Homo sapiens: one gene and its partner. The protein of the gene in region 2 purifies or fractionates together with the protein of the main gene of each other region. This does not show direct contact. Each region holds a gene or a part of one and is shown on either strand. Other genes may lie near its edges.

Region 1 (7,032 bases), on a different chromosome or scaffold from region 2:
AGATGAGCCTGGATTTTCCTTGTTAAAAATGGGTATTAAGCTATTAAACACTATTAGAGTCTTATCAAAAGAACTTATAAGCCAACTTAAATAGGCTACAACAAACCAAAGATGGGCCACTTTGAACACTAACAAAGGCAGTAACATCAATGAATTGAAATACATTAAATACATTTAGGGCCAATAGTTCATAAGAATACAAAAAATTTTTAAACCTCATTGGTCATCTTTGAAGGATATGAGAAAATGAACTCATTATTTTAAAAACCAGAAAACAGGCCAGGCATGGTGGCTCACGCCTATAATCTCAGCACTTTGGGAGGCCGAGGCAGGCAGATCACGAGGTCAGGACATCGAGAATATCCTGGCCAACATAGTGAACCCCCGCCTCTACTGAAAATACAAAAACTAGCCGGGCATGGTGGCACATGCCTGTAGTCTCAGCTACTCAGGTGCCTGAGGCAGGAGAATCACTTGAACCTGGGAGGCAGAGGCTGCAGTGAGCCGAGATTGCACCACTGCACTCCTGCCTGGGCGACAGAGCGAGACTCTGCCTAAAAAAGAAAGAAAAAGAAAAAAAAGGGAGAATTGAGCAATTATCCCACCTTTTCTATATGTACCTCAGAGTAACCAAATAGTTGACTAGGGGGCAGGGGGATTACTTTTAGAATAGTCCAGCAAGTAAATGAAGAAATGATAGCATAATCACTATTCTGTAACATCTAATGAATTAATCAATTTAGTCAATGATCAGTGGCTGTTATGCCAAAAAAAGAGACAACCAGGCTGATGAAAGTAAACGTGAAGTAGTCCTGCCCACCCTAACAAACAAATACATCTGAATCTCATCAATGCTCTTGACCTACTATGAATTTACAGGAAGTTCAGAAAACAGAGGAACAGATTAAATGACAAGAAGATGTAATCAATAAAATCCATACTGCAAAATTCTATAAGACAAATGAACCAGTTCTTCAACAAAAACATTGGGAGAGGGAAAAAAGGAAAGTGAAAGAGGGAGAATGAACCTATTGTGATTTATGGGCTTTATTTGGATCCAAACCCAAATGAAGAAATTAGAAAAAAAATCATGAACAGTGACTATATATTTCACTGTATAACAAATTACCTTTTATAAACATGATAATTATATTGTGTAATATCTGGGACTTGCTCCAAAATAATCCAGAGCAGAGTTGAGGTGGGTAGGGAGTAGAGATTAAAATAAGGTAGCTTCATGTTGATAATTGTTAAGGTTCATTATACTATTCTATTTTTGTATATGTTTGAAATTTTCCTCACAAAAGTACATTACTTAAAAACTATACATTTGACTTGTTCATTAAAAGAAACCAACATTCTCTGAAGAGTGGAAATAATTAGAAAATCCTACTCTCTTCTATACCTTGATGTATATAACAACTTGATGTGTATAACTTACTGATGCATCTTCAACAGCAGTGTTCATGTGGCTATGAAAACAAGATCGGTCATCATCTTCATCCATATACACTGGCGGTTCATGTGAAGTCATGAAAGTGGAAGGCTTAAAGAGATGCTTATTAAGAGGGTGCTGTCGTCTGCTTGTTGAAGACTAAGTAAGAAAACAAATTTTTAATTGGTTCAGTGAAAAATCATTACAAGAATCAAAAATATAAAAATACAAATGTTACTTCCAACAAGTCTATCAGAAGAATTTCACTCTATCCTTTAGCATACTCTTATGTTGTTGCTTTTTCTGTTTTCTGCGTTTTTAAAGCATAACTAGCTTTAAAAAATTTTTTTTAAATGTAGGGGAAATACCCCAACAACGGTAAAATGGACCACATGTTTAATATCTAGCTTATATTTGTATCCCCAGCATTTATCATACTCTTGGCAGTCAAATGCTGGCTGCACTGAATTCTTATGATCATCTTATAGAAGATCAGACAGGATGAAGTGGCCTATGCCAGACATAAAACTATCCAGTAAAAAGTAAAAGGAAAATTTCTATAACATTATGAATATCTGAAAATACTTATCTAACATTGATTGACTGCTTATTCTATGCCAGGGTTGTCCAATCTTTGGCTTCCCCGGGCTACATTGGAAGAATTGTCTTGGGCCACACATAAAATACACTCACACTAAAAAAAAAAACAAAAAAACAACAAAAAAAAAATTTCTTGTAATGTTTTAAGAAAGTTTACCAATTTGTGTTGGGCCACATTCAAAGCTGTCGTGGGCCACATGTGGTACGTGGGTCATGGGTTGGACAAGCTTGCTCTATGCCAATGTCATTTAATCCTTACAACATTCCTATAACGTAGTTATCATCACCTCTAATTTAAAAATGAGAAAACTGAGGACAGGGAGGTTAAGTTTCTTGTTCAGTGTGTTGCAGCTAGATAGTGGTAGAACCAGGATTATAAACTAGGCCTATGTGGTGCCCAAATTCTCACTTTCCACCACTATGCAGCCTGCCTGTCTTGATCAATAGCACAGTCACAAAGAACACCCTCAGCTACATGAAGAACCATCATTTCACCTGTTTCCAAATTTAAACTCTAACAATGGCAAGCAATCATTGTAAATATAGCTGTACTAGATCTTCACAGCCAAAATACAGTACACCTAAGGGAAAAAAACACATGTACGTTCTCCAGTATTCCTTTTGTTATCATTATCCAGTGTTAATGATGAAAACATGGTTACATCTATAAAATTAGCTTAGAAATTAACCATGAAAATAAGAGCTCTTACATTAAACACAGGTTAATGTAAGGTTCCAATATTCCACAGTTATAGGATGAACTCTACAAATCTACACAGGTTGTGCTATATTTGGTGGGAAACCCAAAATATTTAAAACAATTGGCAAATTAAAACAAGCTTCCAAAGCTCGGTTAAAAAAAATTTTTTTTTAATGTGTAAAACATGAAACTGTATAGACAATATTCTTAATGTAAAATTACATGAAATAGCTTCAGTATGGAAGGATAACAGCACTAGATATACTCTTAGCTTCTCTTTATGAGAAAGATGTCAGTGGTGGGGAGGGAAAAGTAACAGGATAACTTATTAAGAAAATTTAAAACAGCCAATTAGGTGTCTTTATTTTTTGCGATTACAAGAACGAACAGCTGGGACTGCAGGTGCGTGCCACCACACCCGGCTAATTTTTGTATTCTTAGTAGAGACGGGGTTTCACCATATTGGCCAGGCTGGTCTTGAACTCCTGACCTCGTGATCCACCCGCCTCGGCCTCCCAAAGTGCTGGGATTACAGGCGTGAGCCACCGTGCCCGGCCGAAACTGGCTACATTTTAATGTAGTGTCCTGTTTGGGAAAGAAACAGTAGCTTCTCCACTGTAGAAAGCAACAGAGAAAAGTGGAAAAAGTGTGGCATCAGAATGGGAGAGAATCAGTGGTTCCCAGACTTAGCAGCTAAGCAACTAGATAATTCACTCAACATACCTGAGGGCCCAGTTTCCTTACCAAATAAAAGGTTATAGAACAGTAGAGTCTGGCTCAGAGCCCTCAATATAACAGCTAGCTATTAATATTATGTCAGTAAAGTGAAGATGATAAGACTACTTATATTTCAAGAATTGTAGAAAGGATTAAATACAATATTTTATTTTTTTAAAGATACGGGACCTCACTATGTTGCCTAAGTTGGACTCAAACTCCTGGCCTCAAGTGTTCCTCGTGCCTCAGCCTCCCAAGTAGCTGGGACAACAGGTGCACACCACTGTGCCTGGCTTTAGAATATCATAATAAACCTTTCTATTCTTGGATTTATGTAGCATTATCTACAAAACAGAAATTGATCTATTAAATTTATTAAATGATTGATTTATTAAATAATCAAATATCCTAAAAACTTTACCCTCACAAAGGCCTTTCTAACATATTTTGAATCTAAAATCTTTCAAGTAGCACTCATTCACATTACTCCAAAGAAAATAATGAAGAATCATGAATTTCACTGAGCAGCAATAATGGAGTCCTTACCCTCCACTTTTGCACAATATAAGGAAATGCTTAGAATGAACAGAAGTTTTAAAATACAACACTATTCTGTCAAATGTGTAGATTTTTACATAGCAATTCTTACTTTAATAAATTTAATCTACAGTTTACTTTCATGTATTTTCTTTTACCTTTTTGGAGTATATATATAAGTTTGGTGTTCTGCCTGGTACTGGAATGCCAGCTTTAGTTAGCTTTATGAAATACTTCTGTACTCGGCTGGCAACCTAAGGAAACATGACAAGTCTCTTAACACAATGAGATGACATACAATACCTGAGTCGTTTTTAAAAATTAAAACGTACATGAGTATCTAATGAATGCTAAGAATTCAATACTCATCATGAATCTAGAATTAACAATAAACTGCCACCAAATACACATATATTTTAAAATCTAGGCCAAACAAAAATTATTCAAGTAAATTTAAATTTGATTCTAAAGCTAAACACATATTTCAACTTGTGAACACTTACATTTGTAGTATAAAAACACATCTATTAATATAGATGGGAATATGAAGGAGTAAACTGCAAGATACATTTTTAGAAAGACAACCAGGAAACACTAAGGCAATGAAACAAATCTGTTTGCTCAGTATAACCAAAAAGTATACAATTAGTATATTTAGTAAGCATTCAAGAGAAATTAAGTCCATTATATGTTCATTTTTTAATATTTCGTAATGATCCAAAGCAGAAGTATCTCAAGTTGTTTCTGAAATCAACGAAAATATATACAATTTTTTTAAAAAAACACCACATACTACAGCACTCTGTAGCTGAAAGTGTTATGGCAGATCGCCCAATGTCAGCTGCATTATTCTCCTTTATTAAAAAACTACCAAAAGCATACCAGCAATCTGCAGTCATCTCCTCAATTACCTGTTTTGCTGTCCTGTTGCCCAATTCATCTGCTATCTTCTGCCAGCGTCGAGATTCTACTTCTTCAGGAGGGTATTTGATGAGTAGCTGTTCCAGCTTTTTCTAAGCCATACCCAAGACCAAATTTAAGAAAATATGTATTTAATTTTAAATATTGGATTTCTAAATAAATACATTCACATTTCATTTCAAAATGTAATACTCTCTCCCACCTTTGGGGGTTACGTAATTAGAAATCCTCATGGTAGGAAAAATTTCTAGTTAGAAACTTAAGACTTCACAGGGAACAATGAAATTAGAGAATAAACTTATGAAAGAGCTTAGAAAAGTTTTCTATTCACATAAGTAAAAATATCTCATAAGAAAACAGAAAATAAGTAAACAAATTGGTAGATTACACATTTTAGTGATTTCCACTGAAATCACTAAATCCACTGAAATCCAAGAAAAGATGGTCAATCTTTTCTTACTTTTCTTTCCCCTACAGTTTTAACAAAAACGTGTAAATTCACTTAAATTTCGACTATTAAAAGAGGCTTTTCCTTCTTTTGTATGGTCCTTTATTCAAATATTTGATTTTAATATTCCTTCTTGTCTCCTGTATCTTCTCATAGTCCTAAAGATGCAGAAAAATCTGGATGCTTGAAATAAATAGATTTCCCAAAGCTTTTTATAAACTGTTAAATGTATAGCTGTGGGGTTAATAGCCATATGAGACAAAGATGTGCCTCAAACTTCACCCACTAACAACCCTAGCCATTAGCCAAAAAACAATTCTAAACTGTATGCCAAAACTGACTTGACTTCCTCACCTCCCTTCGACAACAAAAATAAGAATGCACTTTGAAGCTCAGCTTTACTGGCCTCAGGTTTTTCTCTCTCCCAAAGCTACATTACAAAAACATCTATTTTATTCTATCCACTTCTACTCCCCTCTCAAAACCCAGGTTCCTTCTTTTAAAATTATCCCCAAACAAAAGTTTACACATTCTCAAAATCCAAAATTCTTGACGTATGCAAAAAGGTATACAAAAATAAGCCTAAATATTTAAAACTCATGGCTAACAGGCATCACATACAACAATATACACCTGACTCAAAATACAGGCTCTTTTCTTTTTGAGATGGAGTCTCACTCTGTTGCCCAGCCTGGAGTGCAGTGGCATGATCCTGGCTCAATGCAACCTCTGCCTCCTGGGTTCAAGCAATTCTCCTGCCTCAGCCTCCCGAGTAGCTGGGATTATATATGCACACGCCATCACACCCGGCTAATTTTTGTATTTTTAGTAGGGTTTCACCATGTTGGCCAGGTTGGTCTTGAACTCCTGACTTCAAGTGATCCACCCATATCAGCCTCCCAAAGTGCTGGGATTACAGGCGTGAGCCACTGGACCTGGCCTCATAATACTGACTCTGATGTTAACTGTTTACTTGTTTTTTTAAGCCTACACGATTTTGAAATATTTATTACCTGTTCTTCAACAGTCCACAACTGGTTAAATGTTTCAGGTTTGGTATCATCACACAAGCGTCCTCTTATCATCTGCACATAAGACAAGGCTTTTGTCAGAGAGAAAATAACAACACCTATCCTTTGATATAGCCAAATAACACGCAAATTGTGGAATTTTTAAATTAATTTCAAAATATTTGAGTAAATTTGTTTTTTAATGTATATGCTTTTTTTTTAACTGTTTACAAAATGCCTTCACATTATTTTATTTTGTTTGGTTTTATACTCTCAGCAATCCTGTGAAATACATAATAGTACTGTAACTTCATTTTTTAAAAAAGGGAAAGGAAATGTGGGCTCAGAATTGAAAAGTAACATGTCCACTGAGGTTCATCTAACTAAGAGTGGCAAGGCCAGGACTCAAATCCTGGTCACATTTCACTACACACAAAGGAACTACTATTTTTAGAGTAAATACTATGTGTCGGATACTGTACTAGGCACATTGCATATACTACCTATTTAACCCTCACCAACAACCCTACAAGATAGGTAATATCAACTACATTTTATACAAAAGGAAACTGCAGCTTAGAGACTTCAACGTAAATGATGTCTGAAGGTTCACGGCTAGTAAGTTAGGACTCCAACCTAAGTTTCTCTTAATTTCAAAGTTCTT
Region 2 (7,032 bases):
TCCGACTTGCTCGTTTTCTAAGTCCCTCAACAGTAATGATGGGATCTAAAGTTGGTTTTGAGGCTGCTAAGAAAGAATAAATACAGGCTGAGTATCCCTCATCTGAAATGCTTGGGCACAAGCATGTTTTGGATTTCAGATGTTTTCGGCTTTTGGAATATTTGCATTTTACTTATTGGCTGAGTATCCCAAACCCAGAAATACAAAATCCGAAATGCTGCAAATGAGCATTTCCTTTGAGCGTTATGTCAGTGCTGAAAAAGTTTCAGATTTTGGAGTGTTTTTGATTTTGGATTTTCAGATTTGGATTGCTCAACCCATATCTAAATTTTAAAATAACTACTCAACTTTAGTTTCTTTTGCTAATTTATTATTATGAGTAATATCATGTTCAATAAAGAGAAATGTTCAATGAATGCCCTAAACTAAAAAAGACTTAGATATCTCTTGAGAAAAAAGAAGTTATACTGCAAATTTAAACAAATAAATACTATCTTTCACCTACTGGAACTGGCAAACATTAAAAGTTTAGCCAGGCGTGGTGGTGCACGCCTCTTAATCCCAGAACTTTGGGAGGCTGAGGTGGGTGGATTTTGAGCCTGGGAGGTGGTGGCTGCAGTGAGCCAAAAAAAAAGTTTGATAAAGCTCAGTAAATGTATGGGGAAATGGGCATTTTCATGGGCATTTCAATGGGTACTTTTTTTTTTTTTTGAGACAGGGTCTTGCTCTGTCACCCAGGCTGGAATGTTAGTGGTGTGATCTCGGCTCACTGCAACCTCCGCCTCCCGGGTTCAAGCAATTCTCCTGCCTCAGCCTCCAGAGAAGCTGGGATTACAGGCATGCGCCATCACGCCCGGCTGATTTTTGTATTTTTGTACAGATGGGGTTTCATCATGTTGGCCAGGCTGGTCTCGAACTCCTGACCTCAGATGATCCACCTGTCTCGGCCTCCCAAAGTACTGGGATTACAGGCATGAGCCACCATGCCCGGCCTTATTACAGTTTCTTGGAGGATAATTTGGCAATCCTGATTAAAATTTTGAATGAATATGCCCTTTGATGTAGAAACTCCAGGAATTTATCACATTTTCACATGTACACAAATTTGTAGAATTGTAGCACTGTTTAAAGTAACAAAAGGTCAGGCATGATGGCTCATGCCTGTAATCCCAGCACTTTTGGAAGGAGAGGCTGGAGGATCACTTGAGCCCAACAGTTCAAGACCAGCCCAGGAAACATGGCGAGACCCTATCTCTATTACTTTTTAAAAATGTTTTAATTAAAAAATAAATAAATAAAATAGCAACAAAAAGGTAGAAACAACCAAAATGTCCATCAACAGGAGAATGGTTTAACAAATTATCACATAATTATATAATGGATGTAATGAAATAAAATAGGGTAAATCTACATGTACTGTCATGGAAAGATGTCCAAGACATACTGGTAAGTGTGGCAAAAATGGAAAACTCATAATAGTACGAGTCCATTTTACTTTTTTAAAAAACTAAGAAAATGCTTAAATCTGCAGAGATCTTTCTGAAAGTATTCACAAAAGACAACAGTGGTTACTCTGGGAAGTGAAATTGCAGGCCATAGGCAGGTGGGGGAACTTTCATACTTTACACCCTTAAGTACTATTTGATTTTCTTCCCAATCATATTTTTAAAATTTTAAAAGCTCATCAGCCTGATCCGGTGGCTCACCCTGTAATCCCAGCACTTTGTGAGGCCAAGGCAGGTGGATCGCCTGAGGTCAGGAGTTCGAGATCAGCCTGGCCAACATGGCAAAACCCCGTCTGTAATAAAAATACAAAAATATTAGCTGGGCATGGTGGCATGTTATTTGGGAGGCTGAGGCACGAGAATCATTTGAACCTAGGAGGCAGAGGTTGCAGTGAGCAAAGATTGCACCACTGCACTCCAGCCTGGGCAACAAAGCGAGACTGTACCTCAAATAAATAAACAAACAAGCAAACAAATAAATATAAAAATTTAAAAGCTCATTAAAAGCTTTTTAGATTATAAAACCAGATCAATATGTGATAGTAAGAAGTCACTGTTAACATCTTTTTAAATATGAAAATGGCATTATGGTCAGGCTGCAAAAAGGAAAGAATCCTGATCTCTTAGAGATACATACTAAGATATTTAGGAATGAAATGTTGATTCCTGGGATTTGTTTCTAAATAATCCAATTGTAAGAATGGGGAAGGTTGGGGAAAAGTACTGAGGATTTAGATAAAATGAGACTGTCAGGAGTTAATGTCAAAGTGAGGTGGAAGGTACATGGGAATTCATCATGTTATTTATTACGGGAATTTTAAAATATCTCTTCACCTTTGTGAGAAGTTTAAAAACAAAAACCAGATGGAAAACATTGAACCTTTCAGATACCCTGGGAAATTTATAAAACTGATAGCTTGATTAGGAAGTGATAAAATGTTTTTATGTGGCATTTATTTCTAGCACACACACAAGTGTCATCACAGAAGTGTTAAACAGAGTAGCTCCAGAGAGGCCTGCGAGCCATGCCCAGTGGAAGCAGGAGCGTCTCCTGGGCTCACACCTGCTTGGCTCTGGTCTGACTAGCAACTTTTGTACTGTTCTCACAACAGTACCTTTTATTTTCAAAGTAGAGGCAGACAACTTCTCTCCTTCAGGTTTCATCGTTGGGGGCTTGTTATGAACAAGTTTCCACCATCCTGGCTCTCCAAATTCCTGAGCACCTGAACGGAAGTACATGGGACTTCCCACGCTGAGGCAACCTGCCACGGTGCTCCACCAGGTAGACGTCTTTTTCCTAAAGAGTCCAAGAATTTAAAAATGATTGGCACTTTTGCTCATTATACAGAAAAGACAGTCTGTGTATACTGTGACTCCTGGCCTGCAACATGCAATGGCACCTCCAGCTACTGAAGGAGCAGAGCACGAGAGGCAGGAGAGAGGCTCTGGAGTTCGCCTGCTTCAAACCCTGGCGCTACCAACTTCTAGCAGCCTCGGTTTGTTCATCTGTAAAATCAGGATAATAGAACTTACCTCACAGGGTTGCTGTGAGGATTAAATGCAATAATTCAAACAAAGCACGTGAAATACTTCTCATCACAATCATCACGATTATGGAATTCTACAGGCTAATTTTAATTAAGTTGCTTTGTTATGTGAATTAAGCACAGCTCCCAAGAATAAAGCATACAAAAAGTGTAACTCCAAGGCTGGGCATTTTGTGATAGAAGTTAACTGGCTCCAGTAAATACCTCATTTTACCCGAGGAGTAGCACACATCTCTCAATCTGATCCTATCTGCCTCGATGCACTAGAGTGGTAACAAAACTATGTGGTATACTCCACAAACACAGAGAGCACCTACTGCACAACAAAATAACAAAACATGCAAAATGCCAACTATCCGGGTTCCCTAACGGAAATTCTTTCAAGGCGACTGTTCTATTTCCACCTTGAAAAGATACATCAATCCCCGGAAATCCTAGAAGACAGTCTTTCACAAGAAGACCAGTCTAACAGTTGGAAGGTATTGCTGGGAAGGCAAAGGAAAACCATTCTGAGGAACAGAGACGTAATATTAATAGAAAACTCAGAAAATAAACAAAACAAATAAGCTCAGCTATAGTAGGCATAAGCACTATCTGAGGCTGGGTGCGGTGGCTCACGCCTGTAATTCCAGCACTTTGGGAGGCCGAGGCGGGTGGATCACCTGAGGTCAGGAGTTCGAGACCAGTTTGGCTGACAGGGTGAAACCCCGTCTCTACTAAAAATACAAAATTAGCTGGGTGTGGTGGCACATGCCTGTAATCCCAGCTACTCGGGAGGGTGAGGCAGGAGAATCTTTGAACCCGAGAGGCGGAGGCTGCAGTGAGCCAAGACTGCACCATTGCACTCCAGCCCGGGCAACAAGAATGAAACTGGGTCTCAAAAAAAGCACTATCTGAGATGGAGAGAATGAAACCCCCAAGCTTTTGGTTCCAAAGTACCTCTCCTACATTCTTATCTTTTTCTAATCTTTCCAAATCCTCTCTAATAAATACAAAATGTAGCATAAACACATACAATAGAATATTATTCAGTCTTAAAAATAAAGGAAATCCTATCACATACTGCAATGTGGATAACCCTTGAGGACACTTATGCTAAGTGAAATAAGCCAGTCCCAAAAAGACAAATACTGTATGGTTCTACATATATGAAGTATTTAGAGTAGTCAAATTCATAGACACAGAAAGTAGAATGGTGACTGCCTAGAGCTGTGGGGAGGGGAGAATGGAGAGTTATTTAATAGGGATAGAGTTTCAGATCTGCAAGCTGAGAAGAGTTCTGGCCATCTGTGAATCTATATTCAAATACGTGAACATACTTAACACCACTGAACTGTACACTTGGAACTGGTTAAGATGGTAAATTTTCACTGTTTTTACTGCAATAAACAAACAGAAGTCTGGGCAACATAGTGAGACCTCATTTTTACAAAAAAATAAAAATAAAAAAATTAGCTGGGTGTGATGGCACGTGCCTGTGGTCCCAGCTACTTGGGAGGTTGAGGTGGGAGGATCACTTGTGCCTGGGAGGTAGTGGCTGCAGTGAGCCATTACTGTGCCATTGCACTCCAGCCTGGGTGACAGGGTGAAACCCTATCTCAAACAAACAAAAACAATAAAAAAGACTGACAAAGACTCAAAAGATTTTAAAAACCAATGTGTTATTTACTGTGTCGAAAACGGGTGCGTACTTGTACATTGACAGTGGGACTATAAATGGGCATATACTTTCTGGAGGTTACTTTCATAATGTACAGCAAAATTGTGTGTATCCTCTGACCTCGCAAATCTACTTCTAATCACAAAAACACAAAGGATATATATACAAGAATATGCCCCACAAGGCTAACTTAAACACAGAAAAACTGGAAATAACATAAATGTTTATAAAATTATCGGCCAGTGTTACAGATTTCATCGTATCCTCCCAAAAGATGTTGGAAGTCCCAGTACTTGTGAATGTGACCTTATGTGCAAACAGTGATCATGAGGTCATTAAGTTGAACACTAATCCAATATGACTGGTGTCCTTACACAAAGGGGAAACTTGGACACAGAGACAGACGTGTAGAGAGGGAAGATGCATGAAGACACAGGGAGAACGTCATCTACAAGCCAAGGAAGGCCTGTGGCTAACAGAAGCTAGGGGAGAGGCATAAAATACTCTCTCCCTCACAGCCTTCAAAAGGAACCAATCCTATCAACACCTGGATTTCAGATTTCCAGCCTCTAGAACTAGAATACATTTCTGTTGTTTAAGCCATCCAGTTTGTGTTACAGCATCATTAGCAAACTAATATAGCCAGCTAAATCACAGCACAACACATAATGAGACATTTGTATGGAATGGAATAAATTTGTTGCCAGGACATATACAAACACAGTATTTATGAATGGCCTCAATAGTTTTCCCCCAAAATTATTATTGTGGTAAAATATACATAACATTTACTATCTGAACAATTTTTAACAGTATAGTTCAGTGGTATTAAGTACATTTATATGGTACAATCACCACCACCATCCACTTTCAGAACACTTTTCACAGGGCAAAACCGAAACTCTATATCCGTTAAACAACTCCCAATTCCACCCTCCCCGCCAAGTGCTGACAACCACCATTCTACGTTCTGTATCTGTGATTTTCACTACCCTAAGTATCTCAGATAAGTGGAATCACACAGTGTTTGTTTTCTTGTGATTGGTTTGTTTCACACAGCATAATGTCCTCAAGGTTCATCTACACTGCAGCATGTGCCAGAATGTCCTTCCTTTTTAAGACTGAATGATATCCACTGTATGTATATGCCACATTTTGCTTATCCATTCATCTACTGATGGACACTTTGGTTGCTTCCACATCTCAGTTATTGTGAATAATGCTGCTAAAAACATGGATATACAAGTATCTCTGAGACCCTGCTTTCAGTCCTTTTGAGTATATACCCAGAAGTGAAATTGCCAGATCATATGATCATTATATTTTTAACTATTTGAGGAAACACCACACCATTTTCCACAACGATTGTACAATTTTACATTCCCACCAACACTGCAAAAGGGTTCCCATTTCTCCACATTCTCGCCCACAGTTGTTGTTTTGTTTCTTTGATAATTGTCATCCTAAGAGGCATGAGGTGGTATCGTGTTATAGATTTGATTTGCATTTCCCTAATGATTAGTGATGCTGAGCATCTTTTGATGTGCTTATTGGCCATTTTAATATCTTTGAAGAAGTGTCTATTAAATGCCTTTACCCATTTTTGCAATGAGGGGAGCTATAACAACAATGGCTGCCATCTCTTTTCACCTCTATGATTAGAAGCAGCAATCAGTGATCAGAGCACAAATACCCAGTATTTGGAAAACAGGCTTATTTTTGCCCACCCTGGATGCTACAAGCTGTGTGTAAGCCACTCCAGGAACACACACACAGCTTTCTTCCTAGTGGCTGGAGAAGGGGGATGGGTAGCACCAAAAAAACCCCCACCTTTTTACATTTAAACTTTAATAACATATTAAAGGCATAAAAGAAAAACCTGTAAACATCTGAAAGAAAATTCAGAACTTCATTACACTGTATAGCATTCTCTTAGATCTTGTGACAAATGAGAAATGGTTACAATTTTTAAGAATTTAAAGTATGTCCTGGCCAGGTGCAGTGGTTCACGCCTATAATCTCAGCATTTTGGGAGGCCAGGCGGGTGGATCACCTGAGGTCAGGAGTTCAAGACCAGCCTGACCAATAAGGTGAAACCCTGTCCCTACGAAAAATACAAAAATTAGTCGTGCATGGTGGGGTGTGCTAACCTAAATAATTTTATGTACCATTGTAGAAACAAGTTAAAAAGTATATGAAAACTTAGTTATTACTGAATAATTGCCTAGTATTTGTTCATTTAATCTGCTTTTACAGTCCTGGCCTTGAATTCTTCCAGAAGGTATAGTTTTGATTAGTGAAGAATAGCTTGAATATTTTC

What was found. The genes of interacting proteins can lie anywhere in the genome.
Region 1: the proteins of KAT14 (region 2) and ZZZ3 purify together in Homo sapiens (affinity purification with mass spectrometry; 4 studies listed by BioGRID and IntAct, with this or other methods). This does not show direct contact.

What each region holds. Positions count from the first base shown.
Region 1 is NC_000001.11:77,574,627-77,581,658, forward strand, and holds part of ZZZ3 (ZZ-type zinc finger-containing protein 3), read right to left. Parts: intron 6,444-7,032; coding exon 6,372-6,443; intron 5,003-6,371; coding exon 4,901-5,002; intron 4,244-4,900; coding exon 4,148-4,243; intron 1,595-4,147; coding exon 1,442-1,594; intron 1-1,441.
Region 2 is NC_000020.11:18,154,854-18,161,885, reverse strand, and holds part of KAT14 (cysteine-rich protein 2-binding protein), read right to left. Parts: intron 2,803-7,032; coding exon 2,621-2,802; intron 67-2,620; coding exon of another isoform or gene 64-66; coding exon 1-63. UniProt on the Homo sapiens protein: Component of the ATAC complex, a complex with histone acetyltransferase activity on histones H3 and H4. May function as a scaffold for the ATAC complex to promote ATAC complex stability. Has also weak histone acetyltransferase activity toward histone H4.